Homo sapiens: one gene and its partners. The protein of the gene in region 6 interacts with the protein of the main gene of each other region in a pairwise test. Each region holds a gene or a part of one and is shown on either strand. Other genes may lie near its edges. The genes, in order: ARSJ, DISC1, MICOS10-NBL1, MVP, SS18L1, ZMIZ2 and SSX2.

The links.
Region 1: the proteins of ZMIZ2 (region 6) and ARSJ interact in a two-hybrid assay, tested with the Homo sapiens proteins (one large-scale study listed by BioGRID).
Region 2: the proteins of ZMIZ2 (region 6) and DISC1 interact in a two-hybrid assay, tested with the Homo sapiens proteins (one large-scale study listed by IntAct).
Region 3: the proteins of ZMIZ2 (region 6) and MICOS10-NBL1 interact in binary tests that used the Homo sapiens proteins (3 or more experiments, as listed by UniProt).
Region 4: the proteins of ZMIZ2 (region 6) and MVP interact in a two-hybrid assay, tested with the Homo sapiens proteins (one large-scale study listed by BioGRID).
Region 5: the proteins of ZMIZ2 (region 6) and SS18L1 interact in binary tests that used the Homo sapiens proteins (3 or more experiments, as listed by UniProt).
Region 7: the proteins of ZMIZ2 (region 6) and SSX2 interact in binary tests that used the Homo sapiens proteins (3 or more experiments, as listed by UniProt).

What each region holds. Positions count from the first base shown.
Region 1 is NC_000004.12:113,972,758-113,977,097, forward strand, and holds part of ARSJ (arylsulfatase J isoform 1 precursor), read right to left. Parts: intron 1,048-4,340; exon of another isoform or gene 955-1,047; intron 1-954.
Region 2 is NC_000001.11:231,695,704-231,700,043, reverse strand, and holds part of DISC1 (disrupted in schizophrenia 1 protein), read right to left. Parts: intron 1-4,340. UniProt on the Homo sapiens protein: Involved in the regulation of multiple aspects of embryonic and adult neurogenesis. Required for neural progenitor proliferation in the ventrical/subventrical zone during embryonic brain development and in the adult dentate gyrus of the hippocampus.
Region 3 is NC_000001.11:19,603,479-19,606,978, reverse strand, and holds part of MICOS10-NBL1 (neuroblastoma suppressor of tumorigenicity 1 isoform a precursor), read right to left. Parts: intron 1-3,500. UniProt on the Homo sapiens protein: Possible candidate as a tumor suppressor gene of neuroblastoma. May play an important role in preventing cells from entering the final stage (G1/S) of the transformation process.
Region 4 is NC_000016.10:29,829,883-29,834,222, reverse strand, and holds part of MVP (major vault protein), read right to left. Parts: intron 3,750-4,340; exon of another isoform or gene 3,709-3,749; 5' UTR 3,674-3,708; coding exon 3,549-3,673; intron 3,346-3,548; coding exon 3,150-3,345; intron 491-3,149; coding exon 367-490; intron 289-366; coding exon 157-288; intron 1-156. UniProt on the Homo sapiens protein: Required for normal vault structure. Vaults are multi-subunit structures that may act as scaffolds for proteins involved in signal transduction. Vaults may also play a role in nucleo-cytoplasmic transport.
Region 5 is NC_000020.11:62,171,008-62,175,347, reverse strand, and holds part of SS18L1 (calcium-responsive transactivator), read right to left. Parts: intron 2,667-4,340; coding exon 2,547-2,666; intron 832-2,546; coding exon 704-831; coding exon of another isoform or gene 617-703; exon of another isoform or gene 1-616. UniProt on the Homo sapiens protein: Transcriptional activator which is required for calcium-dependent dendritic growth and branching in cortical neurons. Recruits CREB-binding protein (CREBBP) to nuclear bodies.
Region 6 is NC_000007.14:44,761,830-44,766,169, reverse strand, and holds part of ZMIZ2 (zinc finger MIZ domain-containing protein 2), read right to left. Parts: coding exon 4,265-4,340; intron 3,290-4,264; coding exon 3,184-3,289; intron 2,915-3,183; coding exon 2,757-2,914; intron 1,752-2,756; coding exon 1,684-1,751; intron 1,230-1,683; coding exon 1,161-1,229; intron 836-1,160; coding exon 591-835; intron 204-590; coding exon of another isoform or gene 169-203; exon of another isoform or gene 146-168; intron 7-145; coding exon 1-6. UniProt on the Homo sapiens protein: Increases ligand-dependent transcriptional activity of AR and other nuclear hormone receptors.
Region 7 is NC_000023.11:52,704,011-52,708,854, forward strand, and holds the start of SSX2 (protein SSX2), read right to left. Parts: upstream 3,169-4,844; 5' UTR 3,102-3,168; intron 1,760-3,101; 5' UTR 1,740-1,759; coding exon 1,671-1,739; intron 1,233-1,670; coding exon 1,118-1,232; intron 583-1,117; coding exon 487-582; intron 1-486.

The DNA of each region.
Region 1 (4,340 bases), on a different chromosome or scaffold from region 6:
TCCCTGGACAGCCCCTGTACCTTTTTGCTGTAATTAATTGCTGGCTGTCCCTGCCATATTTTCAAGTTGGGGCCGGGCTTTTACTCACATCCCAATATTCACAGAGCCTGGAGCAGGTATGGGTGCTCTCTTAGTTTCTCACTGGCACTTCTAGACAATTTTGGCTCTTGTCTCCCTTTAAAAGCTCAATGCCTTTGAAAAGTAAGGCAACAGACAATAGACTCATTATCTTTGCTGTTAGAGTCCTTCATCCAATTTCAGGCCTTTCCGGAACCTGATCCCTCATTCACAGATGATCCCAGCACTGGCTCGCTGTCGTCTTTGCTACTATTTCTCTTTTTATTCTCAGTGATTTCTCAATGGATATCCATGGGAGTGATTATTCAACACTCTGTCCTTGAAATACTTTGCCTTCCTTACTTCCAAAGATGTTTTACCCCATCTGACCTTAGCACTCATTACCATATAATTTTCAAAACCTGTACTACATAACTAAATTTTGATCCCCTGCATATACTTTCCCAATCACTATTATCTATGTTTTCAACTTTCCAAGTTTACTATGGTGTTCTCATTTCAATGACATCCAGACAGTTAATTTATTGACCTCAGCACTTTTTAAGAGAACATAAGCCCCCATAGTATTCCCCCTTTCTTTGCAAAGGGTCCATGATCCACCATGCTAATTATTTGGCAAATCTCAAAAACTAGTTAATTCCACCTCTTCAACTGTACTTCTGCACACAAGCACCAAGCAGGGTGGGAGAAAAACAAACAAAAAATGCCTGGTGTCTGTTAAAATTTATGACCACAAATCTCAAGTGGGCTCTCGTTACATCCCAGTATTTTTACTGCATTTCTTTACCCAATTCACTTTCTTACTCTCCTAGCAGATATTTTGTATCTCTCGCCCTCTCTCGTTAAACCTTCAGATCTTCCTTCTCAGCTAATTACCTGTAGGATAATTCAGAAGAGAATTACTTCAGAGTCCCAAAACCAAATCTTCCAAGCTATTTGCATCTGTACATCTATACTCTCTCTTCTTTCCTAGGAAAATTAATGAACTGGTAAAAAATATCCAAGGCAATTTTGAAGAACAAGCAGGAGGTTTTACATTCAAGATATTAATATTTATTATAAACCTATAGTAGTTAAGAGAACATAGCATTGACACAACAAATCGATAGCGAAAACAATGAGAATTGGAATGGAAAAGTGCAGAAACAGATCAAACATGTGCATTCATCTGATTTATGAAAAGGTGATGCTGCAGTGCAATGGAGACGGTATGGTCTTTTTAATAAACAGTGTGGGTCAAATGGGTATACACATGGAAAAAATAATCTTGAACTCTCATTTACACCATACTAAAAACTAATTTCAGATGAATCGTAATCTAAATACAAAAACAAAACAATAAAACTCTTAGGGATAAAAGACCATGGTCATGATCTTGGGGTAGGGAGAATCTCTTAAATAGGACATAAAAAGAAAAAGATTATAACATGGATTACAAGAAAATTAAAACCTCCCGTTAATAAAAAAAATGAAAAATCGCTAAAAAAAACCAAACACACCAAAACCACTAAAAAACATACACTAAAAAACCAAAACACTGTTGAGGAGAGTGAAGAAGCAAGCCACAGTAGGGGAAAAGAGACTTGCAATACAAATATCTAACAAAGGAATAGAATATATAACTACCACAAATTAATAAGGCAGAAACAATCATCTAAAGAGAAATTAGGCAAAATACTTGAATAAATACTTCTTTAAAGGGGATATAAAATGGGTCCATAAAAATGTGAAAAGATGCTCAACTTTATTAGTTGTCAGGAAAATGCAAATTTAAACCATAATGATGTAGCAGTGCATAATGACCAGAGTGGCTAAAATGAAAAAAGATAATACTAAATGTTGACAAAGATGTGAAACAAGTAGAACATTCCATACAGTTACTGGTGAGAGTACAAACTGGTAGAATCACTTTGGGAAACTTGAGCAGTATCTACCAAAACTGAACACAGACATCCCTTTAACCCAGGATTTCCACTTCTTGATAGATATCTAAGAGAAATGCATAACCTATGTTCACAAAAAACATATACAAGTATTTTTATGGTAGCACTGTTTATAATAACCCAACTATGAAAACAACCCAAATGTCTATTAACAGTAGAATGGGTAAATAAATTGTAATATGCTTATGCAAAGGAATACTATTCAATGATAGTGAGTATGTACAGGCAACAACATGGAAAAATTTTACAAACATAATGCTAAAAGAAACCAGACATAGAAGAGTACCCTCTCTGTAATTCCATTTGTATAAAGTTCAAAACCAGGCAAAATTAATTTAAGGTATGAGAAACTGGGAGAGTGATTATCCATGGTGAGGGATACCAGTTGGGTAGGGGGTTGTTTTAAGCACAGTGAATTTATCAAATATCCTATTAGAAATAAACATTATTTGAGTTTCCTTCACATTTGTTAACAGTGATCATCATGGTATTTCAAGTGGGATAAATGAGTAACAAAATAGTAAAAACACAAAATTACTATCAAAGATACAAATTCAATTCAGATTGTCAACCTTTCCTCCTCTAAAGTCTGCATAAAACATGTCTAGGTTTTGCAAAACTTATAATTCACTTTATGAAGCCTTCACTATATTCTCTTTTAAGAAAAAAATGATATTTTTAATCCATATCTTTATTTGCAAAACTGTAAAAAAAGAAGTGAGTAAATTACTTTGAAATAAATCAAACACAGGCAGTCACTTTCCCAATCAACCTTTTATCTCATCAGGACAACTGTGAACACCTAGAATGCTGTTTCTCAAAGCCCAGTGCATAGAATCCCTACATCACTACCCCTCTTAGAATCTGTTGCCACATCAATATAAAATGGGCATGACAAGAGCAACTATCTAAAGTTGTTGCAAGGATTAAATGAGACAATGCATATAAAATTCATTACCCCAGAACACAGTGACTGCTCAGCAGACGCTAACATTTAATACTAACAGTCTTAATTTATTTTTGATGATGTCATCATCACAATAACCTGACATGCTCATTAAATCACTATTGATTTCTAGACTCAACCCCGGACCTACCAAAGCTGAAGGGCCCTGAAATCTGCATTTTAACTAGCATTTGGACTGATTCTTTTTGCACACTACAACTTGAGAACTACTATCCAGAGATTAGGGCTCACTTCTTGTTTCTTCTTCATGGCTCCAATGCAGGGGTCTGTACACATGAACGCTTATTGACAGGCTGACTGATAATCAATATTGCCAGACTAGTATGATGTAAATTATTAAGGGAATCTGCAATTTGTTACAGATTCGTGTAGTAAAAGAAAATGGATTTTTAATTTTTGACTCCAGAAAAATATAAAGGGAGGGCTGTTTTGTTAATAGAATCAAAAGTAACTTCAGCTTCAATTATGTAAACTCTTTGTCATGTGAAGATATTTGAATCATGTCACACTTCACATAACCCATTTTATTTCCCTTAAAATAGTTTAGTTCATTTCAGTTTTTTTTTATGGCTTCCTTTTTTAATTTAGAAGATCCACAAGGCATAGACATGTGTTCATAGAGAGAACAAATGACCATATTCTCTGGGACCTGCATTATTAACTCATTTATGCCTAGTGTTCCATTATTGGAATTCTAAGCATGTGGGAGTAATTTATATACTACTGCCCAAGATCATTGCCAGGGGCTGATTGCAAAAATTCAAAACATTGCAACCTCAGGCATAAATGGGTTAATAATGAGTCCAGAACTGGGCTTCCATAACTGCTTTATTTCTTACATCTGTGTTCATTTAAATGAAGGTTCCAGCAATTTGTCTAAAAGGAGAAATTGCAAGTGAAAAAGTATTCAAATGTTTAATTCAAATAGAAATTTAAATCAAATCACAGTAGCTATTTGTACTTTTTGTCTATAAAAGTTATACAACCTGTTGCACTAAATAAAAATTTTTAATGAGAAAAGAAATCTCATCAGATGTTTGATTGCATTGAAATTACAGAGACGTTAATCTTTCACCAAAGAGAAAAATTAGGAAATATTTCCAGCTTAGTTTCTCTTTCATTTTATTAAGTAAACATAATGGTTAAAAGATAAAACCTACATATTGTTTCAGTGCAAGATAATGTTTAAGAACAAATTTTCTTGTTTGGTGAAAAGCCTTGAACATATGCTTTATTGTGAAAAATAAATTCATATAGTTCAGTTACTTATTTTCAACCACAGTTGGCTATCTGTGTAAATCTAAATTCTATAAGTTAGTTGAAGAGGTCCAGTGAGGCTTTGTGAGACATTT
Region 2 (4,340 bases), on a different chromosome or scaffold from region 6:
AGATTTAAAAGTGGTAAGGGAGTGAACCACGAGGCTGTCTGGGAGAAAAATATTCCCACAGAGGGAAGAGCCAGTACAAAGGCTCAGGCAGAAGTGTTTCTGGTAAGAAAGCAAGAAGTGAAAGTGAAATGAAAAGCAAGAGGGAGCAAGAATGCCACTGGATCTGGGGCAGATTGATGTAAGGGAAAACTGTAGAGAATGAGGTCACACAGGTAATGAGGACTGTGTCAAGAAGAGACATGAAGACCATTTAAAAGTTCTGATTTTACTCTGAAGTTCATGGGGCGCCACTGGAGAGTTTGGGGCAGAGGAGCACATGATCTGACTTATGTTTTAAACAGTTTCACTCTGGCTGCTGTTAGTAAGAGCAGAAGAAGGGAGGCCAGGTAAGAGGCTATGGGAACATTCAGGAAGGAGATGACAGGAGCTTGGATGATAGTGAGGATGGTGGCAATGGTGAAGATGGTGAGATGTGATCTGATTCCGGTTATATTCAGAAGACCGCTGGTTAAATATAGAGCCAACAGGATTTGCTAATACATCACAGGTGGGGTCTGAGGAAAATGCACCAGGATGATGCCAAGGTTTGTTTTGTTTTTTGTTTTTTGGGTTTTTTTTTCTGACCCACTGGAAGAATGGAGTACTTATTGCACCAGGTTATAGCCATCATTTTCCTTTGTTTGGTTTTATCTGTGCACATCATTCAACCTTGAGCATCTGGGGGGCAAGAACTATTTTGCATCCATGTATAGGATGCTAGTACTTACACTGACTTGATTTTCCACTGCTTTGGGCACATGGAAAGAGTACAAGTGCCTCTCTCCTTGTTCTGCTGAACAGGGTATGAGTGGCAGTGATGGGGTTACCTCTACGCTGAAGCATTTGATCGCTCTTGTAGGACTCCCTAACATTCTCTTCCTCAAGTCTGTGACTAAGGGGATCATATGTTCAGATGGTGCAGGCTGGGTTCTTGCCCCCCAAAAATCTCTGTGGAACATGAAGCATACGCAAAAAACACAATTTTGTTGTGTTGAGCCTCTAACGTAGTGCCTGTTACTAGCCTGTCCTAATACAATCTCCAAAGCCTAGGATAAGGCATTGTACTCGTTGTCATTGATAAATGCTTTCTGAATGAATGAAAGAATGAATGAATAATCATATTAACCCCTTTGTCTTTGAATTGTTCTATATTACAACTGCAAAGTTTACCAGTAACTTAGTCCTATATATTAGGGACAGAAGAAAGGCTGTGTGAATGGTTTGAGGGCCACATAAAGCTATAGCATTACCATCGCCACACCCAAATGATGGTATCATTAAACATTTATTAGAACAGAAGCTGAAGAAATGCAGGAAACAAGGTCAGGAAAAAAATTCATTTACAGCCAAAGCCCACCCCACGATGCCCACCTCGTCCAGTGATCTCTATAAGGCCCTGAATGGACTGCCCTGAGATATGTCTGAATACCCGTCTTTGCTGGAGGCACAGCCCCAGTGGCCATGTCTTGCACTGTGCCACAACCCTGCCTGTGGAACGTCCTATAATACTCTACAGGCAGAGTCCTTCATTTTTCACCAGTTTCCATGGCCTTAGGTGGAGCCTACCTTGCAGGGCCCACTCCACTTCCCCTCCTCTGCATGCCTGGTCACCAACTACCTTTATTACCATCTTCTCAGTCCCATGCAACCCCTGGAAATCTCGCTAAGCAGCGATTTCTAAACAGCATAAAATATTCACAGTCGATTCTCCTTATTCACAGTACTGTAGTTATGTTCTATAAAGTTTCTGTGAATACTGAATTAGGGAATAATGAAGCATTGCTCCTAAGAGAAATACAGGGTAGGTTCCTGTGAACCCCTGGTCACAACACCTTCCTCCATCGGTCAACACATGACCTTGTTCTATGTGTGTTTCTGTTTAAAAACATCTTATTTAATATGTATTATTGATCCATAAGCATTGTACTCTGGCCAACAGCACTCTAACTCATGCCTGAATAAAGTTTCTGGAGCACCTGTATCTTCTCCATCAGGCCCATCACAGCCTTCTCATGCTTAGGAGCACTAGATGACATTAGCACTATGCTTAGGGAGCTTTTGCAATGGTTAACTCACCAATAAAGAGCACAAAAATGTAAAAAAAGATGGCATTAAATAGACCACAAAAAGGATACTAGTTTGTAGTATGAGAGAGAAGGTAGAATGTCATCTGGTCTGAACTTGTTTGACCTAAGTAGAAAGCGTGTACATCAGGTGACCCAAATATTTTGCCACTCTGTGCAGGTTCAAAATTACCACCAGGCATGGTGGCTCATGCCTGTAATCCCAGTACCTTGGAGGCTGAGGCAGGAGGATCATTTGAGGCCAAGAGTTCAAGACCAGTTTGGGCAACGTGGCAAGACCCTCATCTCTACCCAAAAAAAAAAAAAAAAAAAAATTAGCCAGGCATGGTGGCATGCGCCTGTAGTCCCAGCCACTAGGGAGGCTGAGGCAAGAGAATCGCTTGAGCCCAGGAGTTCAAGGTTGCAGTGAGTTATGATCACACCACTGCACCCCAGCCTGGAAGACAGAGACCCCGTCTCTTAAAAAATAAAATAAAAATGAAAAATGACCATAAAAGTGCTGTGAGTACTGATTTTGGAGTTAACAACAAATTTTAGCAAGTAGACGAATTCACACATATAGAATCCACAAACACTGAGGATCAACCATCTTTTAGAAGAAGCTGAAACTTAAATTCCTGAGATTCTCATTTTTACTTAAGTAGAAGCGAGAGGAGGTTAAGGAATTAAAATATAATATCAATAAGGCCCCCAAACACTAGAAATCCTACTCTTTCAAAGGATCTTTTTGGAGATCCTTCACCGACCTTCTGCCCTGTCCCGAAGGCCTCAGCCGCAACCCCAGTGAGCAGTCTGGGGCCTCTGTGTAAGCACCATGGGAAAACAAGTCCCTGACCAGCCCACCTCATCACAGACAATTCCCACTGTCAAGAGGTTCTTCCTCCTATTGAGGCAAACTCTGCCTTCCTGTAAGTCCTATGCCCTGGACTGTGTTATTTCTGTCATTCCCACTACTCTGTTAATTCCGCTGTCACACAACAGATACTCAAGTACAGCCTAGCGTTACTTAATGACAGGGATGCATTCTGAGAAATGCATTATTAGGTGACTTCATCATTGTGTGAACATCGTAGAGTGTGCTTACACAAATCTGGATGGTGTAGCCCATTACACACCTAGGCTAGATGGAATAGTCTATTGCTCCTTGGCTACAAACCTGTGCAGCATGTGACTGTACTGAATACTGCAGACAAGTGTCACACAATGGTAAGGTATTGTTGTATCTAAACATATCTGAACATAGAAAGGGTACAACAAAAACACAGTACGATAATCTCACAGGACCACTGTCACATCATATATGTGATCCGTCATTGGCCAAAATGTCATTATGCAGTACATGAGTGTAATTGAAGAGAGTGTCATGTTTTTCCCTGCCCAGCTGTGGGACTGCCATAGACAACAATACTTACACTAAAGAAAAAGTGTGTCCAGATTCTACCATTTGAGATAAGATAGGAATTTAATTTGAGCTATGGACAGAAGGGAGAGCTTCATTTGCTTTTGACTCAAACTCTCTAAATTGGAGCTATTTCTCTAATGATGACAATGGTTAATTTCTGGGTACTTGCTAGATGCCAGGCCCTGTCTGAAGCACTTTGCACATATGATCACATTTAGTTTAATTAACTGGAGAAGAGAAACACCGCAGGAAGGTAGACCCTCTTGCAAAACCCAGGTGAAAGATAACAAGGATCTGAGCCAGGGCAGCGGCCATGGTGATGAGAGACAGATTAGCAGTAGGACTGAGAGGGCTTGGAGGCCAGCCAGATGTGGAACAAGGGAGAGGGAGGTGTGGAAGATGGTTGTGGTTTCTGGCCTAAGAAACTGGATAGATTCTATGCATTCAAATCAACCAATATTGGAGGCCCTTCAGAACGGGTTTCGGGGAAAGACAAGGGGCACTGGTTTAGGCAATGACTAACTGGAAGACTCCACACATCACCCAGAATACAAGCCTGCATCTGTGCTCTGACCTCACTCCCTCTCTGCATAATAAATCAGAGGGCTGGGCTGAGGTCCCTGAGGGCTGAAACAGGGCAAACAGGGACAGGGCTAGAAACATCAGACTATAGATAAAGAACAGATGGGAGATGCTCTTTCGGGGAATGAGCATGAACTTCTGCAGATTACTCCTCCCAAATGCCTGATGAGTGGGTGCTCCACTTCCCTACCCACATGAACATATCCACACACCACACGCAGAAACACATGAGT
Region 3 (3,500 bases), on a different chromosome or scaffold from region 6:
ATCTATCAGATGAACTGATACTTAAAGAAAAACAATAATTTGCTTTCTTTTTCCATGACTATTCAATGGCCTCTTTTAGTATTTTTTTAAACATTAAAATGGCTTCAAACAATTTAACTAGACTTGATTATTGAATGAATACACAAAATCTGCTGGTTAACTTTAATTCTAAGGCAAGTCAGCTTCTAAGTCTTTTACTGTCCTACTTTTTTTCTTTCTTTTTTTTTTTGGAGACAGAGCCTTCTTGTTCTGTCGCCCAGGTTGGAGTGCAATGGCCTGATCTTGGCTCACTGCAACCTCACCTTCCCAGGTTCAAGTGATTCTCCTGCCTCAGCCTCCTGAGTAGCTGGGATTACAGGCATGCGCCACCACACTCAGCCAATTTTTATATTTTTAGTAGAGATGGGGTTTCACCATATTGGCCAGGCTGGTCTCAAACTCCTGACCTCAGGTGACCCACCCTCCTCAGCCTCCCAAAGCGCTGGGATTACAGGTGTGAGCCACCGTGCCCAGCCCTGGCCATACTTTCGTAACAAGGAAGAAGCAAGGCCGAATCCTTTCTTTTCATAAAGATGAATGCATGATAAACCAATAACTTTCATCTGTTAACTGAGCTGCATATAATTAGAGACCTATCTCAAGACATACTAGAAATTAAGAAACTACAAAATGTTATTCCCCTCTCTGCCTCTCCTATTTGTCAAAAGCAACACCATGCTCATTTATGTAGGCTTGGCACCACCTGACTCCTCCCACTCCTGAGCCTGCATTTCAAGTTCTGTAAATATAAACTCTGTACTAGCATCATTATATCTCTCTTTTCCACTCCTGCTGCTCCCCTCTTAGTTCATGCTTCCTCTCATTTGATCAGCTCATCTTTGGCAAGATTTTGCAATAATATACTAAGCTAGCTCCCTGCCCCCACATCCTAGCACTCCAGAGAGTTATTCATTCTCATCACATCAGTGATCTTTCTGAAATCAGAAATTCAACCACGTCACTTTTCAGCTTACCATTCAATGAATTTCTTCGAATGCTAAACATAGAATTGCCACACAACCAAGCAATTCCACTCCTAGGTATATATCCAAGAGAGATGAAAACATGTCCACATAAAAACTGGGGGGCTGAGCACCATGGCATGCACCTGTAATCCAAGCTACTCAGGAGGCTGAGGCAGGAGGATCACTTGAGCCCAGGAATTTGAGACCAGCCTGGGCAAAACAGACCCCATCTCAAAACAAAACAAAAATGTGTACACTTGATCACAGCAGCATTATTCATAAAATTTAAAAGCGTAAACAAACTAAATGTCCACCAACTGACAAATGGATAAACAAGATGTAGTACAAATACACCACACAACATTATTTGGTAACAAAAAAGAATGATGAACAGATAAATGCAACAGCATGGATGAATACTGAAAACACTACCTAAGTCAAAGAAGCCGATACAAAAGACTACATATTATATAACTCTTTATGTAAAATGTCCAGCATAGGAGACTCCACAGAGACAAAAAGTAAATTGGTGGTTGCCTGGGGCTAAGGTTGGGGTGAGAGTTTGGGAATAGGAGCAGCTGCATCCAGTGTTTCTTTTGGGGGAAGCTAAAAATATTCTAAAATTAGATTGTGATAATTGCACAATTTGGTGAAAAAACTAAAATTGTACACTTTAAATAGGAAAATGTATGCCATGAAATATATCTCAACAAAGTAGTTTAAAAAATCTCCACAACTTCCTACACCCTTCCACCTTTCCTGCCTCATCTTTTGTCCCTCCCCACATAAATCCTTTAACCCCAAAGGATAAAATCTCCTGCATTAACATGTGATAGCTACAAGAATGGGGTTCACCTTCCTACCCTTGCAGCTGTAGCCTGTGATCCTAAAGGAGGGATTCTGCCACCATGAGCTTCCATTGTAAAAATGGAGAAATATCTTACAAGGATATGAGATAATGATGTAAAATATAACATGCTCAGCACCGTGCCTGGCATGCGGTTAAGTGCTCAATAAGTGATGGTCATTCTCATCATTCCCAGAAGGAACCAAAGTATCCCTCTCCTTTGGGACACCTTCAAGGAGTGAAACACACTCCCCCACCTGGTCCACCTATTAAATATCTGCATATTTTCCAAAATGGGGGTCAAATGTCCCTCATCCTTTTCACATTCCTCAAGGCAGTAAGCCCCTCGAGGGTAGGGCCAGTGCCTATTCACCTGTGTGCCACCCCCTGCCAAGGCTTACCACAATACCTGGTACTAAATTGTTTCAAGAAGTACACATTAATGATTACTATTACATATATAAACATGAATATTGATTATCAGACCTACAATAGCCACGACCCACAATAAGACCCACCTACGACCCACAATAGCCAAGATCAGGGTAAATGTGTTAATCATTTTAACTCTTTTACCTCTACTCTTCAGCGACAGCCTCCAGTTTTTATTTATTTATTTGAGACCAAGTCTCACTCTGTTGCCCAGGCTGGAGTGCAGTGGCTGCATCTTAGCTCACTGCAACTTGCTACTCCCGGGTTCCAGCGATTCTCATGCCTCAGCTTCTCGAGTAGCTGGGACTACAGGTGCGTACCACCACACCTGGCTAATTTTTTGTATGTCTAGTAGAGACTGGGTTTCACCATTGTTGGCCAGGCTGGTCTCAAACTCCTGGCCTCAAGCGATCCACCCACCTCAGCCTCCCAAAGTGTTGGGACTATAGGCATGAGCCACCACACTCAGCCTCCAGTTAATAATATTTAGTAAGTACAGGCAACGTCCTAACTGCTCTAGAGATTATCTCATTTTATCCTCACTTGCAACTACCCTCTGGGGCAAGTACTATCATTTTATAGATAAGAAAACTGAGGCTGGGAGGTATTTACTGGTACATTTATTTTGAATGAAAAAAATGAGGAAAAGAAAAACAAAATGACTGTGTATGCCACTACAGTTCACTGAATTGAATACATTCTAGGGGCTCCTTGTAAATGTCCATGGCTTGCCTTTTTTCTTGCTACTAACGGAAATCACTGTTGTGCTTGACACACCTGGCTTGCCAGGACAGTCTTTTCCAGGAAACTCTCCAGCTTTGGGACCTCTCCCTCCACCATGACATCTCCTCCCTGCCTTCATCCCAGCCAGCCCTCTGATTCATTCTCATCAATGATTTTTCTGAAATCAAAAATTCAACCATGTCACTCTTCAGCTAACCATTCAATGAATTTCTTCAAATGCTAAAATACAGAGTTGCCATACAACCTGACTTCTATTAGAATAAACTAGAATTCTAAACCAATACATGGATTAGTAAGACTAGATATTCCTTACTCTGGTCTCACATTGGAGCAAAACAAAGAGAAAAGGGACACAGCCAATTTTAAAGCTATCCAAGTCACACTAGGGATTCCCAGGACCTCCGTATGAATCCAGGAAGTGCCAGAATCAGATTTTCCTCAAAGCGTCCTCTGGCAAATCCATAGTCTGAGGA
Region 4 (4,340 bases), on a different chromosome or scaffold from region 6:
GAAGGAAGAGCAGTGGGTGGCCCTCAACAGCTTTCAAAAGATACCAGGAAAGCGCCTCTCTGGGGCTACAGGAGGCTTTCCTCAACCTTCCCCTGCTTCCCCTGCAGTGGGGACCCCTCCTGCCCACCCACCATCATCGCCCCTTGGTGACCCCACCTGTCACCCTCTCCTTGCCGTCCCGGTCCCAGCACTCCTTGCGGGCCCTGAGCCGCAGAGCCTGGTTCTGCCTGATGATGGTGGCCTGAATGATCTCCACGACCTCCACTTCCTTCCGGGGGATGTACGTGCCTGGGGAGGGAAGGTGATGGTCAGAAGGTATCAGGGCTATGACAGGAAGGCAGGGAGCCCTATGGAGACAGAACTTACCAGGTCCCTCGAAAAGCCACTCATCTCCTGCCACCACCTTGTCTCCATCTTTATCCTCAAAATCAAGCAGCGCCTTTAGATGGAGGGCAGTGTTGGGCAGAACCACCTGCAGGGGTGTGATGTCCTAGTGGGGAAGAAGGTGGAGACACAGAACCATCAGTGCTGTGACCCCAGGGCCAAGCCTGATGCTCTGGAGGCGGGTCCACAACATCCATCTCTGTATGTCCTGAAATAAGACTGGGGTGGAGGCCGGGCACAGTGGCTCACACCTGTCATCCCAGAACTTTGGGAGACTGAGGTAGGAGGATTGCTTGACCTCAGACATTCAAGAACCAGCCTGGGCAACATAGCAAGATCCCATCTCTAAAAAAAAAAAAAAAAAAAAAAAGTGTAGCCAGGCATGGTGGCGGCGCACACCTGTAGTCCCAGCTACTCGGGAGGCTGAGGTGGGAGGATCACTTGAGCCCAGGAGGTTAAGGCTTCAGTGAGCTATGACTGCACCACTGCACTTCAGCCTGGGCAGCAGAGCAAGACCCTGTCTCAGGAGTTCAGATGAAGGAGAAGTTAGAGAAGGCCCTTTGAACTGAAACTGGGGCTCAAAGGAAGAGCTGGCTTTTTTTTATTTTTGGAGATGGGGTCTTCCTATGTCATCCAGGCTGGACTGCAGTGGTACAACCATGGCTCACAACAGTCTCAATCTCCCAGGCTCATGTGATCCTTCTGTCTCAGCCTCCTGAGTGGCTGGGATTACAGGTGTGTCACCACCCCCAGCTAATTTTTTTTTTTTTTTTTGAGACAGAGTCTTGCTCTGTCACCCAGGCTGGAGCGCAGTGGCGCAATCTCAGCTCACTGCAATCTCCGCCTCCCAGGTTCAAGTAATTCTCATGCCTCAGCCTCCCAAGTAGCTGGGATTACAGGCGCATGCCACCACGCCTGGCTAATTGTTGTATGTTTAGTAGAGATGGGTTTTCGCCATGTTGGCCAGCCTGGTCTCAAACTCCTGACCTCAAGTGATCTGCCTACCTTGGCCTCCCAAAGTGCTGGGATTACAGGCGTGAGCCACTGTGCCCGGCTGAACATATTTAAAATGAAAGCTTAGGCAGGGCTTGGTGGCTCACACCTGCAATCCCAGCATTTTGGGAGAATGAGGTGGAAGGATCGTTTGAGCCCAGGAGGTTGAGGCTGCAGTGAGCTATGATCACCCCACTGCACTCTCGTCTAGGCAACAGGGGGAGATCCAGAAAAAAAAAAAAAAAAAAAGGCCAGGCGCGGTGGCTCACGCCTGTAATCCCAGCACTTTGGGAGGCCAAGGCAGGTGGATCATGACGTCAGGAGATCGAGACCACCCTGGCTAACACGGTGAAACCCCATCTCTACTAAAAACACAAAAAGTTAGCCGGGTGTGGTGGTGGGCGCCTGTAGTCCCAGCTACTCGGGAGGCTGAGGCAGGAGAATTGCGTGAACCTGGGAGGCAGAGCTTCCAGTTAGCCGAGATTATGCCACTGTACTCCAGCCTGGGCAACAGAGTGAGACTCCATCTCAAAAAAAAAAAAAAAAAAAAAAAGGTACAAGAATCCCTATATACTTTTCACTTGGATTCCTTAAGGGTTATTGTCTTAATCATTCTTCATTTTCTCTCTACACACACACTTCTTCCCCCAAACTGTCTGCACCTAAGTGGACATGAATGTCTCTAAAAGTTCCCCATGTTCTGCTATTATGCTTTCAGGATCAAGCAGCACTGGTTAGTAAAGTCAGTAAGAAAACCATTAAATGGGGCTGGACACGGTGGCTCATGCCTGTAATCCCAGCACTTTGGGAGGCCGAGGCGGGCGGATCATGAGGTCAGGAGATCAAGACCATCCTGGCTAACACGGTGAAACCCCGTCTCTATTAAAAACAAACAAACAAACAAACAAAAAACCCAAAACCATTAAATGGCCAGAAGGTAAAGGTGGAAGAACAGGTAAAGGAATGAAGGTGGGACACCCACCTGCTCAGGCCCAGGCCTGAGGCCAACGGGGACAAGAGCCTGGCTGTAGGTTCAGGCCTGTGATGGCTTCTCCTAGAACAGGCACAGCCTGGGGCCTGGGCTTGTCACTGCTGCTTTGGCACTGCCCACCAGTGTCTGGCACCGGGTGAATGAACTGCTTAACCTTGGCACATGTCATTTAATGCCAGACTGGCTGGGCACTTCTGGTAGGCTCTGGAGCCTGGGAAGGTGAGATGGGCCAACAGTTCTCAGAAAAGAGGCAGGTGTGTTTGGGGCATGTGTGGAGGATGGGGGTGGCTGGAGGTGAGTGGAGGTACAGTGAGTCAATTCCACCCTTGGTGAGAGCCAGCAAGTGTCTCTCCCCACCCCTCCCACTGCCCTGGTTTGTTTTCCCTTTAGAACTCGGTACAGGCCGGGAACAGTGGCTCATGCCTGTAATCCCAGCACTTTGGGAGGCCGAGGCAGGTGGATCACCTGGGGTCGGGAGTTTGAGATCAGACTGGCCAACATGGTGAAACCCTGTCTCTACTAAAAATACAAAAATTAGCCGGGCGTGGTGGCGGGTGCCTGTAATCCCAGCTACTGAGGAAGCTGAGGCAGGAAAATCACTTGAACCCAGGTGGAGCTTCCAGTGAGCCGAGATTATGCCACTGCACTCCAGCCTGGGCGACAAGAGTGAAACTCTGCCTCAAAAAAGAAAAGAAAAAAAGAAGAAGAAGGCAGCAGTATAGAGCCCAAGGCAGGTGGAGGACAGGTAGGGTGGGGCATAGGGAGTGAGGAAACCAGGTACCTTTTCCAGCACCTCCCCTGGGTACAGGGGGAAGGGGTCCTGGGCCAGCCGGATCTCGAGGTCAGCGTGGCGAAGCCGAACTTGCCCTGTGACATCAAACAGCACCAAGCCCTGGGCATCCCGAGACACAGGGTTGGCCACTGTGCAGTAGTGACGTGGGGGGACGGTCACCATGCGCATGGGGGCAAACAGTACCCTGCAGGAAGATGAGAAGAGGTGTGAGGACCTGGGACCAGGTCTCCACTACCAAAGAGGACACCAAATGAGAGAGAAACCTCTCTATCGCCCAAGCGAGGGCCACTCCTGCTTGGGAAGAGGGAGGAGGATAAGGACCATCATGCCAGCCAAACAGGCCCCCACATCCCCAAGGATCCCCCACAGCCCAGCCCCCACACCCACCTCTCATTGTCCTGCCGGATGTAGGTCTTTGGCCCGACCTCCACACGGGACACGTTGCTGTTCTGGTCCAGCACATGGATATAGTGGTATGGGGGGATGCGGATGATGAACTCTTCAGTTGCCATGGTGACTCCTAAGCCCAGGGCTCACAAGAAGATGACTGGTAGGTGGGGGAGACGACACAGGATGAACCTGGGGAGCCTGGGGTGGGGCAGGCATGAATCTGGTGACAGACTCTGGGTGGGATACGGCCCTACCTCCTCCAGCCAGGCCACTGCACCCTTCCCTGTCCGCATCTGCATGCCCACTGCTCCCTGTCTTCACCCCACCCAAGACGACACAGCCCATCCTGACCTTACCTTTGCCAAGAACTGCTTGATGCAGTGAGCCACAGAGGCCCAGGGTTCCTTGCCAATTCCTTTCCCTCACTCCCATCAACTACTTCCCCCTACACTGCCACCGGCACTGCAAAGAGCTTCAGATCAAGGTGCTCCCAGTCTCTTACGGTGGAGAGATACAGCAAGCTGGGAAACTGGGGAGCCATGGAGGTGGTGACATGGCCTTGTCCAGCACGCAATGGGCAGCTGCTCTGAGGAGCTGCCTGGCTCCTCCAGAGGGAGGCAGCCCTTTATTTCAGAGAATCCTGAGGCCCCAGCTGTATTCAAATGTCAGCCCATAGCCAAAGAATATCTGTATGCCTCAGGTAGTCCAGTGGCTAGGATTCGGCCATAAACAAAAGGAATGTTTACATGAGCTGTGTCTATGTTCCCTGCCTCTTTCCTATGCTTTAGT
Region 5 (4,340 bases), on a different chromosome or scaffold from region 6:
GCGATGTCTGCTTTATGGAGGCCCCTACGCCCACCTGTCCCTGTCACCTCCCGCCACACCGGCCTCCTCACTGTCCCGAGAGCTCCCGCTCTTCCATCTTCCAAGCTGCTCTTTCCTCAGCTCCTTCAAAGCCCTGCTCACTGTTCCTGGGCAGAAAGGGCTTCCCCCTCCCTAGGCTGAGCCTGGGGCTGCCAGCCACTCCCCGCTGTGTCTTCGTCCTGGAATTGCCCACACGGGCCAAATGCGGTCGCCTGCGCCCCCATCTGGAAGGCGGGCTCCATTTGGGGCCCCCCGCTCTGTCCTCAGCACAGTCTGGCCCTGTGGGACCACCTTATGTCTCTGTAGCGAGACATAAGCTCTAAAAGTGCAGGGTTCGTGTCGCGGCCACACACCAAGCACTCAGCAGAGACCGGACGCGTACCCAGTACGTGACAAACACTGGCAGAGTGAATGAATGTGAGAACCAGGCGTGCAGATCTAACGGTGAGCTTAGGGTATGAAAAGCCAGCTGGATGACTGAGGTGAGCGTATACACAGAGGCAATTCTGCAAAACCTTACAGGCTCAGAGACTTAACGTTCTGGAAGGAACCCTGGAAGCCAGTTAGTTCCAGCTCATTATTCCTCATGGCCATAAGAGAAATCTTCATTATGTCTCGACAGGCGCGGCGGATGGGCACATCTGGAAACATCCAGAAAGCTTGCCTGTTCATAGCCGTAGGGCCGCTGCTGCTGGGCAGACGGCGCTGTCTGCGGTGCTCGGTAGCTTCCGTACTGCTGGCCTTGGCCTTGCTGGTAGCCGGGGTACTGTGACGGGGCTCCCTGGGCAGACCCTGAGAAGACACCAGGAACCGTGAGGCCGGCCAAAACGGACACCTCTTTCTTTTTTTTTCTTAACTTAAAAATTTTTTTTAAAACTTCCTCTTCTCCTTGAAAAATTCCCGTCTCAATGCATCAGCCTTTTGTCAATCTCCAGAACACCTGGCACCTGCACGTGGCTCCACGTTAACTCTGTACAGCGAGAGCACCACGTAACCGACTCACCAGCCCCTCCAGTCCTGTGAGGTCCCAGGACTGTGCCCCAGGCCCCCCACCAGCATGGCGAGGGCTGATGGGCTCTCTCCATCACCCCAGAACTGCTGCTACCTGAAGGCAGGACAGCCCTCCAGAACCCGCTGGCCCCAGTCACACTGGCTGCTGTAACTTGTCACTGAACTACCACGGGAGCTGCTGAAAACCTGCAGGCAGGTGAGACAGAGACATCGTCTCTAGGAAGGCTAAGTCAAAGGCTCCGGCAAGAACTGATAGAGGCCAATTTTTTTTTTTTTTTTTAGGCAGGGTGTCACTCTGTCACCCAAGCCAGGCTGGAGTGCAGTGGCGTGATCTTGGCTCACCGCAACCTCCACCTCCCAGGCTCAAGTGATTCTCCTGCCTCAGCCTCCCAAGTAGCTGGGACCACAGGAGTGTGCCACCATGCCTGGCTAATTTTTGTATTTTTTGTAGAGATGGTCTCACTATGTCATCCAGGCTGGTCTCGAACTCCTGGGCTCAAGCAATCCTCCTGCCTCAGCCTCCCAAAGTGCTGGGATTATAGACATGAGCCACCACACTGAGCCTCAAGTAATTTATTTTTTTATTTTTTGAGGAGTCGTCTCACTCTATCGCCTAGGCTGAAGTGTAGTGGTGTGATCTCGGCTCACTGCGACCTCTACCTCCTGGTTCAAGCAATTCTCCTGTCTCATCTCCTGAGTAGCTGGGACTATAGGCCCCCACCACCATGCCCAGCTAATTTTTGTATTTTTAGTAGAGACGAGGTTTCACCATATTGGTCAGGCTGGTCTTGAACCCCTGACCTCAGGTCATCCGCCCACCTCAGCCTCCCAAAGTGCTGGGATTATAGGCGTGAGCCACCACGCCTGGCCTCAAGTAATTTTTATACTATTTAATTAGTAATGGCTGTAAAGGGCTGAATAAGCACAGCAGAATCAGGCACGTGCCTCATAAGAAACCACGTGTGTGGAGCTCATCCTGAGAACTGAGATCTTGCTCCAACAAAAGACCTGGGGCAGCCCACACCTTATTTTTCAGAAGTTTCCTGGGTGATTGTAAGCTGCAGTGAAGGCTGAGACCCACAGGCTTTGACCTGCTCTGTCAAAGAGGTTGAAGCTGGGCCTGAGGCGTGCAGGTGATGGATACACGGGACACTGGCTCCCGTCACAGGCCACGTGGGCAATGAATTTATGTTTAAGTTAAAATAAGATGTTTCAGGTCTACGTGCATGGATGTTTCCAACTTTTCTGGAAACCTAAAGGTATTCAAAATAAGTTTATTACACATCTGCCTGAGCACCAGGGTCACCGGGCACGTACCCACATGTGGCAGGGGCAGGGGTGGGCGCTGGGGGGCCCCGAGGAGCGTGCTCGCCTCTTACCGTAGCCCTGCTGCTGCCCAGGGTAGCTCTGCTGGCTGGGGTACTGAGCACGTACCCATGTGTGGCAGGGGCAGGGGTGGGCGCTGGGGGGCCCCGAGGACCGTGCTCGCCTCTTACCGTAGCCCTGCTGCTGCCCGGGGTAGCTCTGCTGGCTGGGGTACTGCTGCTGGGAGTACGTCTGCTGCTGCGCGGCACCCTGCTGGTACCCGGCCTGCTGCTGGCTGTACTGGGAGTTTCCTGGAGGGAGGAGGAGACACAGAAATGACTTTCCCCACCTGGGCTAAGGGGGCTCATTCTGTGGCCCACTCACGACACGGTAACTTTGGAATCCCAAAACCAAATCCATTGCTTCGGCATGTTTATTTTTTCACAACCATTCAAATACTATACTACACCTTTATCTTATAGAAATACAAATGGAAAGCTAAGAAACGAAATGGTTAATATGACAACTAAGACAGAGATGAACGCCAGCGTCGCGGGTCAAATGTGCTCCCCAGAGAGATGCTGATGTCCTAACTCCAAGTACCTGTGAATGGAACCTTATTTGGACATAGGGTCTTTGCAGATATAATTTTTTTTTTTTTTTTCAGAGACAGGGCCTCGCTCTGGGACCCAGGCTGGAGTGCAGTGGTGCAATGAGGGCACACTGCAGCCTCCATCTCCCTGGCTCAAGTGTTCCTCTCACTTCAGCCTCCCAAGTAGCTAGGACTACAGTGTGTGCCAGCGTGCCCAGATAATTTTTTTTTTTTTTTGAGATGGAGTTTCGCTCTGTTGCCCAGGCTGGAGTGCAGTGGCGAGATCTCAGCTCAGTGCAAGCTCCGCCCCACCCGGGTTCACGCCATTCTCCTGCCTCAGCCTCCCGAGTAGCTGGGACTACAGGTGCCCGCCACAACGCCAGGCTAATTTTTTGTATTTTTAGTAGAGATGAAGTTTCACCATGTTAGCCAGGATGGTCTCGATCTCCTGACCTTGTGATCCGTTCACCTTGGCCTCCTAAAGTGCTAGGATTACAGGCGTGAGCCACGGTGCCCGACCATGCCCAGGTAATTTTAAATCTTTTGTAGAGACAGGGTCTCTCTATGTTGCCCAGGCTGGTCTCGAACTCTTGGCCTCAAGCAATCCTGCTGCCCCTGCCTTCCAAAGTGCTGGGATTACAGGCGTAAGCCACCATGCTCTGCGCAAAGAATCCATTTTCTACTTTACTTTTCTGGTTGGAAATAACTTTCCTTTTTTAGAAGCTGTAAAATTTAAGTATTTTAAAACTGCAATCTAGTATTTTTTTTAAATAACAGCTTTATTGAGATAATGCACACTGGAATGGCTTAAAAACCTATCAGGGTAATTCAATCTGTAGTTAGGTGGGATGACAAAACTAACACACGCTCTTATTCCAGGCTGAACTCCTCCTAAGGCGAGAGCTTCGGAAAAACTTACTTGAGCCTTTCCAGTTATTCTCTATCCAGGAAGTATCTTGAGTCTTGAACTTCCACGCCTTCCTCTAAATCCAGGGCCGGTTCCAGCAACAGCTGGCAAACGAGCTGTCACCGTCACGGGAGAAGACTTAAGGTCACTATCCTTTCTCCTGCCCCCATGAAAGCCATCTGAGACATGGGGGAGTGGGTTTTCAAGGGTGTCAGGCTTTTGGGGGTCAGCCTGCATATTCTCATGTTTTATAGCCCACTTTATTCTTTACATAATAAAGGAGCCAGTTTGTGGCCGGGTGCGGTGGCTCACGCCTGTAATCCCAGCACTTTGGGAGGCCGAGGCGGGTGGATCACAAGGTCAGGAGATCGAGATCATCCTGGCTAACATGGTGAAACCCCGTCTCTACTAAAAATACAAAAAATTTAGCCCGGCATGGTGGCGGGAGCCTGTAGTCCCAGCTACTCGGGAGGCTGAGGCAGGAGA
Region 6 (4,340 bases):
TGGAACCTGTGAGAGGAGAGTCGGGGCCTGGGTGAGGGCTGGGGAAGGCCACCGCTGGCAGAGGAGCCAGGAGGGAGGCTGGCTGTGGCATGGGTGGGACTTGCAGTGCTCACCCACAAACAACAGCGGGTTTTGCAGAAGTCGCTATTTGGAAAAGGGCATTTCTTCTCATTGCTGCCAAGGGAATTGGCCTTGGGACATTCCTAGGAGTGAAGGTCTCGGAGGTTATAGGAATGGGAGCAGCCACAAACAAACGCACCACGCGTGTGAGGTGGGTCCCAGAGGGGGGCCCCAGATGGGGCCAGTCCTGTGAGGTGTTCCAGCCAGGAGCCCCTTAATCCAAACGGGGAAGGAAGGGTGGAGGCCCCACTGTCTGTTTCCTGGGACCATAGCTGAGACTGTGCCTTCACCGCCACGTCCCTGAGATGGGAGGGGCTGGAGGTGCCCCGCGGCATGTTTTGTGTGGCAACACTGATAACCTAGGTGTGTGACCTGCATAGCCACATTCTTGCAGGTGAGGAGACTGATCTGGGGAGAGGAGCCATATGCCCAGGGTCATCTGAGGTTCAAGGCTAGCCTGCTGTACTTACCCTGGCCAGGGTAGTCGCTGGGGGCAGGGACTGAGGGGGGCTGCAGGGGGGCAAAGGGGGCAGCGCCGGGGCCCAGGGCGGCGATCATCTCCATCACGCTGGGCATGAGCACGTGGGCGGGGCTCACGGTGCGGCAGCGCTTCAGTGCTGGCCCATCCGGCTCCTCCTTGATGTGCATGTCAGGCTTCACGGGCACTGGCTTCCAGCTGCACGTGGGGTCGATGGTGATCTCCTCATAGTCAGAGCTGGGCAGGGACAGGTGGGGAATGGTTACCTCCTGGCCTGCTGCTGGCCCGGCACCCACTGCCCCTCCCAGCCCTGGGCTGTTTCCAGGCAGGTTCCCCCACTCAAATGCTTGCTTCCACCCAGCACCTTCCACATCGAGCAGGACGCTGGGCCCAGCACCAACACTCAGGTAGGACACACACGCTGTCTCTGGCCTGGAATCCAGCCTGCTCCATGCCGGAAAAAGGCTGGAAGGCTGCACTTGGCAAGGGACATCCCCCGACATGTCCTGGGGCTGCCCTCCAGTGGCCACAGATGCAGGGATCACAGGAAGAGGATGCTTACTTCTGAATGTAAATCAGGATGCCCAGCATGTACTGGTCCACCTCCAGGCCCTCCAGCAAAGCTGTCTTGCTGTGGGGAAAAAAAGGGACACAGCTCAGAGACCTTGCACAACCCTGTCCTGGGCACAGGCCCTGTCATTTCTCAGCCCTGTCAGCTGTGACCCTGCATGAGGCAATCCTGTGTGAGGCAACTGAACAAGGTAACTCTGTGTGAGCTGACCCTATGTGAGGTGACAGTACAAGGTGACCCTGTGTGACTGACCCTTGTGTGAGGTGAAAATACGAGGTGATCCTGTGCATGTGGTGACCCTGTGTGAAGTGACTCTGCACAAGGTGACTGCATGAGATGACCCTGCATAAGGCCACCCTATACGAGCTCTCTGCGCTGAGCTGCACAACCCCAGTCCATGCAGTGACTCCTCCCAGCAGGCTCGTATCTTTGATGATGCTGTTGGAGGTTTCACCCATGAAAGCCTCTAAAAGCACCAGCCCCTCCTCCATCACACGCTGCATCTGAGACTCACTTGCACACAGGACACCTCCAAGTCCCCCGCTCACAGTTGAGCTGCAGGTACGACTCCAGGTCAAAGCACTGTAGAGAGATGGGAAGAAAGTCAGTTTCTCATTGTGGGTAGCACAGGGAAAATCTGGTCACTCTGCAATCCCTTTTCAGGAATGTGTGACTTATTTACATGCATAACTGAGATACTGCATGTACCAGGTTTTCACTGCAACATCATTCTAATGGATCAAGGTTGGGAACAGCCCAAACAGCTCTCACTGAGACTGGAATGCCATGTGGCCAAAGCAAGCATCGGGCAGCTGTGCTGACTGGGACCCACTTCCAGAACATGGTATTTTTGTTTTGTTTCGAGACAAGAGTCTCGCTCTGTCACCCAGGCTGGAATGCAGTGGCTCGATCTCAGCTCATTGCAACCTCCGCCTCCCAGGTTCAAGCGATTCTCCTACCTCAGCCTCGTAAGTGGCTGGGATTACAGGCACACACCACCATGCCCCAGCTAATTTTTGTAATTTTAGTAGAGACAGGGTTTCACCATGCTGGCCAGGCTGGTCTCGAACTCCTTACCTCGATCTGCCCACCTCAGCCTCCCAAAGTGCTGGGATTACAGGTGTGAGCCACCGCGCCCAGCCTCAGAACATGGTGTTAAAAGAAGAAAAACGACAGCACAGAGCAGTTTGTGCAATAGGGACCACTATGTAACCACAGAGACAGTGGGCTGTGCATCTACTTGTTCATACCCAGAGTATTTCTGCAAAGACAGATGCTAACGATGGTCACCCTTGGGGGTAGGGCAGGAAGACTGGACCCTGCAATCTTATGCCTTTCAAAACTTGAACCCATGAATGAAGCAGGCAGTAAAAAAGTTAGTAAAATGACAATTATATTTGGAAGAAAAAATAGCCTAGTCTTGGGGGAGCCAGGCCCACCTGCCTCCTTGGCGTGGGAGGCCTGTCCTGTCAGCCTGACAGCCAAGGCACTCGGAGTTCACGTCTGTCCAGAGAATGACACTGATGTATCGACTCAAGATATTTTAGCAGCAGCAAATTCCGGCAAGACTCTGCAGTAACCACCTACCTGTATGTGGCGACAGTCATGACCTCGGGCAGGGAGCTGGATCCTGCGGAAGGTGATGGGGCACTTCAGGGACACCTTGATAGCTGTCTGCTCCACCCCGTCCTCTCCGTTGGGCCCAGGGGTGCCAGGGATGGTGCCGCTGCTGAAGTTCCGCTTTACTGACATCAACAAGGTAAAGGACTTGAGTAAAGGGTCCCCAAGATGGGGAGGTGTGAATGGGGATGCCAACGAGGCAGGGACCCAGTCACTGACCCACTGACAGCTCTGAGGGGCCACCTGGAACTAACCACTGCCCCTACTGCAGAGCCACCTGTCCAAGGAGAAGGCCTGGTGTGACACGAGGAGGTGCCCACAAGGAGGATTGTTGGGCTTGGGCCACACAGAATGGGGATGGCTGCCTGGCAGCTGAGGGGCAGGAGCCACTCACTCTTGGTGATGCAGTGCTCAGCAGGCAGGAGGCGCTTTTTGAGGAGGCCCTGCAGCACCGAGCGGACGGATGGGCGGTGCACTAGCTGCAGCACGAAGAGGTGGGACTGCAATACAACGGGAGGATGTCATCAGGGGGACTTGGGCCAGGGGCCACCCTGGCCAGGTAAAGGGTGTGCTGGGGGTTGTGTGTCAGGGGCTGCCAGGTGGGGGAGGGACAAGGCTGAGGGCAGGGTGAGCTGGGGGTGGGGATTCAGCCAACAAAACTCCTCAGTGGCTTGGCCCCATCCAGCTGCCTTTCCTGGCCTCAGCGCCCTGCCCACGCTTGTATCCATCTCTACAGCTGTGCTGGGCATCCTGCCGGTCTAACCATTGCCTAGTCACCACTTCTCCATGAAGAGAATCACCTCAAGTCCCCTTGAACGTTCCCCCTGCTCGCACATCCACAGTCACAGATGCTGGGTCTGTGTTGACATCTGCCACATCCCAGACAATGTGGTGTGTGGCCAACCCGTCCCCAAGGCCCTCATGCCCAGGCTGACTAGTGCACTCATAAGCCATGTCTTTCTTCTCTAGCCCAAGGGTGACCCTGATGCTTGCTAGAACCGGTAATGCTTGATCAGCCGGGGACTCCGAGCTCCATGAGCTTTCTGCATATCCTGGTTTCTCTTACATAATTAATGTGAGCATCAAATCTAGTCAATTTACTCTAACTGGAAAACAGCTAGGGTATATTACTGGATCGCTTTCTTAAAGGGCAAGGATGACAGATTAAAATAGAAATACAAGGCAGTAACAAAGAGAAGCAACGCATTTTTCTGAAATAATAAAGCCCCCACGTCCTGCTCTCCACCCTGCAAGGGGGCACACATGCTACAGCAGGCGGTGGACAGCAAAACAGCAGACGGCGGCATGATCTGATGGTGCTGCAGGCCGGCCCGCCCATGTCCTGGCTCCGCTCCCACTGCGCCGCTGGGCCAGGCCCCGCCCACACCCCGCCCCACCCCACGGCACCGCTGGGCCAGGCCCCACCACACCCCGCCCCACGCCACAGCACCGCCCCCTCGGCGCAGGACACGCACGCAGCAGCAGGCGGTGACGGTGATCTGGATGGTGTTGCGGCCTGGCTGGCACACATGCTTCAGGTAGAGTGGCTTG
Region 7 (4,844 bases), on a different chromosome or scaffold from region 6:
GGCTGAGGCAGGAGAATCACTTGAACCCAGGAGGTGAAAGTTGGAGTGAGCTGAGATTGCCTTATTGCACTCTACCCTGGCCGAGAAGAGTGAAACTCCATCTCAAAAACAAAAACAAACAAAACACACTATCAACAAGTCACAGCTGAAGCTGTCTGTGCCGCACTCAGTAATCCCTGCCCGCCCTCCCTCCCTCCTCCACTTACAGCCAGTCACCTTAATTTGATGGCTTTTTATTCACATTCATGTTTGTATACATTTACCATTTACTTATTATCCATAAAATATATATTCTTCTTTTGCATGTTTTAAAATTTTATATGAATGGCCTCTGTAGTTAACTTTCTGCATGCAATTTTTTTTTTTTTTTTCACTCAGCCCTGATGTGTATGAGGGAACAAATGCCTGAGGATCTTTCTCAGGTAGCTGAGCTGAAAAGCAGCTGGGCTTGAGGAGACCCTTTCCAGCCCCTTCCCATCTACTCACCCTGATTCCCACGGTTAGGGTCATTATCCAAATCATTCCCCTGGAAGTCTTCGGCCCGTTTATTACACATGAAAGGTGGGAGGGTGGCCTTGAAACCTAGAAAGAAGCAAAATGTTTATTCCTTAAGAGACAAGCTTGGGCCTGGTATGGTGGCTCATGTCTGTAGTACCAACACTTTGGGAGGCTAAGGCTGGAGAATTGCTTGAGGCCAGGAATTCAAGGCTGCAGTAAGCTATGATTGCACTACTGCCCTCTAGCCTAGGTGACAGACTGAGACTGACTCAAAAAAAAAAAAAAAAAAGGAAGAGACAAGCCGAGAGAAGGTAGGGTGGGTGTGTGTGGGGTGGGGGTAGGGGGGTTGCCGGGATGCCACAGAGACAGTTGGGCTCATCAGAACAGAAGCCTAAGGGAGAGAAACGTGCAGGATCCAGGTATAAGCTCCACTGTGGCCAGTCCCTGCCCTCAGCCCTGACAGGATACAGAAGAGCAGAACACCCAGAAGCTGCCTTGCGATTTTTCCCTGCACAAAAGGAAAATGTGAGGTACTTTCTGCAGCCTAAGAAGTAGCCAAAGCAGGAAAAGGGATGCTCATGTGTCCCCAGACTTGTCTGTTCCCAGAACTTTCTGTTACCTAGTTTAGTCATAGCCTCATACTTTCTCTTCATATACACATAGAAGATTTTCTCCGAGGCTTTCATCTTTTCCCACTCTTCCTTAGAGAAGTATTTGGCAATATCATCGAAGGCCTACAAAAAAAAAAAAAAGGAATTATGGCAGGGACTCAGCTAGGCATGTCTGCCATTCAGCTGGAGCCGCTTCCTGTGTGCTAGATCTGGGAACTGGGGATGATAATCCTTCCTGGTTGATGCCATGGCTAACTGACAGAACACGAGGGACCTTCCCTAGCTTCACCCCTGCCACACAGTAGGGCTTTAATGCTGCTGGCTGGCTCTCTTCCCACCTTCCAGAATGGACTGAGAGTCACCAGATGTAGTGCAAGGTCACAGACTTGTCTCCAGGGATGCTAGGTGATGACAGAGCGAGGGTGGGAGGCTCCCAAGGGTCCAGATCTCCCCCGAGACCCTGCTCCTTGTCTCCAGTATCTCTGTCCTCCCCTCCTCAGAAACCGGGTCACCCCACACTGTCCCCTGGGCCACTACTCTGCTCCCTCCAGGTCACCTCACCTTTTGGATCTTCTCTGGTATTTGAGCACCAACCGTGGGTCTCCTTGCAAAGGCGTCGTCTCCGTTCATGGCACCGGGAGCAGTCTGACCTGCAAGAGAAATAGCCTGAGTCTTTCCAGCCACAGCAGCTTTGATCCTGTGGAGGGAGAAGTCAGTGAAGGCCGGCCACCCTCAGTCACCTGGAATCAGCTGCTGCATTTCTCCATCCGGGGCTTATCTGTCCCTGAGTAAGGATATGGGGAGAAATCAGATGAAAACAGGGAACCAGGGGTCTCTGGGAGAAGTATTGATAGGGAATGACAGGTTTCCTATGGGCAAAGCAGCCTTGAGTCTTTGGGAGGGGGTTGGCTAATGTTGTTAGTAGTTTCCCTGGAGCTAGGCTTACCCTGAAAGATGTACGGACCCTTTTTGGGGAGGCAGGGACATGACTGTGTAATTTTATTCAGTGGGGGCATGCTGACACCCCCACTCAATAAATAAAGGAAGGGAAGTTAGTCCCAGAGATAACATGGTCTCTTTGGCGATGGATCTGATCAGGCAGAGGGATGGGGGGTTCTGTTCTGTTGAAGAGAAATGAGCATCGCTAATATGAACGTGTTCAGAGGCTATTACTCGGTGATTTGTAAATTATTAGAAGGAAGAGAGCTAGAATTTCTGAGACTACAAGAGCCCGCCATCACTTAGAGAGAATGTGGGGCATTTCAAGATGCAGCAATCAGCCAGGCGCCGTGGCTCACGCCTGTAATCCCAGCACTTTGGGAGGCCGAGGCGTGCAGGCCGCTTGAGCCCAGGAGGTCGAGACCCGGCTGGGAAACACAGCAAAACCCCCGTCTACAAAATACACAAAAAGTTAGCTGGGGTTGGTGGAGCAGGCCTGTACCATCCCAGCACTTTGGAAGGCCAAGGTGGGCGGATCGCCTTAGCCCAGGAGCTTGAGACCAGGCTCGCAAACGTAGCAAAACCATCTCTACTAAAAAAAACAAACAAAATTTAGCAGAAGCGGGGTGGTGCGCGCCTGTAGCCCCAAGGCCTAGGCGAGAGGCTCACTTGAGCCCAGGAGGAAAGATTTGAGTGAGCTTTTTTGGTTTTTGTTTTTTCAGACAGGGTCTCGCTCTGTTGCCCAGTCGGGAGTGCACTGGCGTGATCATGGCTCACTGCAACCTCCGCCTCTTAGGTTCAGGCGATCCACCAGCTGTGGCTTCCAAAAGTGCAGGGATTACAAGTGTAAGCCACCACGCCCGGCCCAAATTTCTTAAGTTACTACAGAGTTCCTAGGAAAAATCCCGTACCTGAAAAAGTTAGAAACTGACAGGAAAGATTCGAGATGGCGGCCTGCCTCATATACACTCCTTATTAAAACTAGATAGCAAATGCACCGCGGAGGAGGGGAGGGGTAGGAAGAATGGAAAAAGAAAATCGGCGTATGCTTACTCTGATTTTGGAAGAATCCAAAGAGAAAATCAGACCGTGCGTACTCTGAGTATGGAAGAATCGAAAGAGAGAGAAAGTCAGAGCATGCGTACTCTGAACTTAAAGTAGCCAATCCCAGGGGATGCTTTAGGCGGGAAAATTAGAGTCTCCACCCCCACTTTGAGAAGGTTCCGTCCCTGGAGCCGGGACTGATAGAAGCCACATCCGCTTCGCTTGTTCCGCCTACTGTTCTGACTTCTAATTGGCCAGATGGAGTTCACTAACTGCCCTGATTGGTCCATCATCCTTGGGCAGTGACATAGCAGAATAATGTCTCCTCCTCCAGCCACACTTTGTTGCCACTGCGAAAAAGTGGGTGGTCCTCAGGCGCCGTCAGATTTTGAACTCTCTGAAGACCGTTCCTGGATCTTGGGTTAAAAATCTGGATTCTAGTCTGAACTGTGGGAAGAAAAAAATAGTCAATCTGTGATTTTTCTACTTGAAAGACACGATGTTTTCCAAACTAGCACATTTGCGGAGGTTTGCTATACTTAGTCGTGGCTTTCATTCTTCAGTGGCTTCTATGTCTGTTGCCACTGAAAAAACAGTCCAAGGCCCCGCAACCTCTGCTTACATTTTTGAAAGGGAATCTTAAGTATGGTGCGCACAATTACCATCCTTTACCTGTAGCCCTGAAGAGAGGAAAATGTATTTACTTATGGGATGTGATTGTGGTATTGGTTACATCTGCCTTGGCCAATCCTCCAGCCTCCGTCTTGGGACTACAGGCGCGAACCACCCTACCCCCACTAATATTTTTTATTTTTTGATTTTTTAATAGAGAAGGTTTCGCTGTGTTGGCCAGGCTGGTCTTGACGTCGTGGGCTCAAGCGATCCTCCCACCTCGGCCTCGGGACTACAGGCATTCACCACCCAGCCCACGCTTTTTTTTTTTTTTTTTTTTAAGTAGAAACCAGGTTTTGCTATGTTGGCCAGGCTGGTCTCATCGTCCTGGGCTCAAGGGATCCTTCCGCCATGGCCTCGAGACGACAGGCATGCACCACCCTGCCCACGCTTTTTTTTTTTTTTTTTTTTTTAGTAGAAACCGTGTTTCCCTATGTTGGCCAGGCCGGCATCAAGCTCCTGGACTCAAGGGATCCTCCCATCTCAGGACTACAGCCATGCACCACCCTGCCCAAGCTATTTTTTGTTTTGTTTTGTTTCGTTTTAGTGGAAACCGGGTTTCGATATGTTGCCCAGGCTGGCCTCAACCTCTCAGGCTCAGATGATGCTTCCACCTCGGCCTCAGAACTATAGGCGTGTGCCATTCTACCCCGCTCATTTTTATTTATTTATTTATTTATTTATTTTTTAGGAGAGGCAGGCTTTCGCTTTGTTGGCCAGGCTGGTATCAAACTCCTGGGCTCAAGCAATGCTCCCACCTTGGCCTCAAAACTACAGGAGTGAGCCACCCCGCCCACGCTATTTTTCTGTTGTTCTTGTTGTTAGCAGAAATGGGGTTTCGCTATGTTGGCCAGGCTGGCCTCGACCTCCTAGGCTCAAGCAATCCTCCCGCCTCGGCCTCGGGACTATGGGCTCACACCACCCCGCCCCCACTAATATTTTTAATTTTTCTATTAGAGACAGTTTCGCTATGTTGTCCAGGCTGGGCTCTACCTCTGGGACTCAAGTGATTCTCCCGCCTCGGCCTTGGGACTACAGGCATGCACCACCCTGCCTTTTGCTATGTTTCCCAGGTTGGTC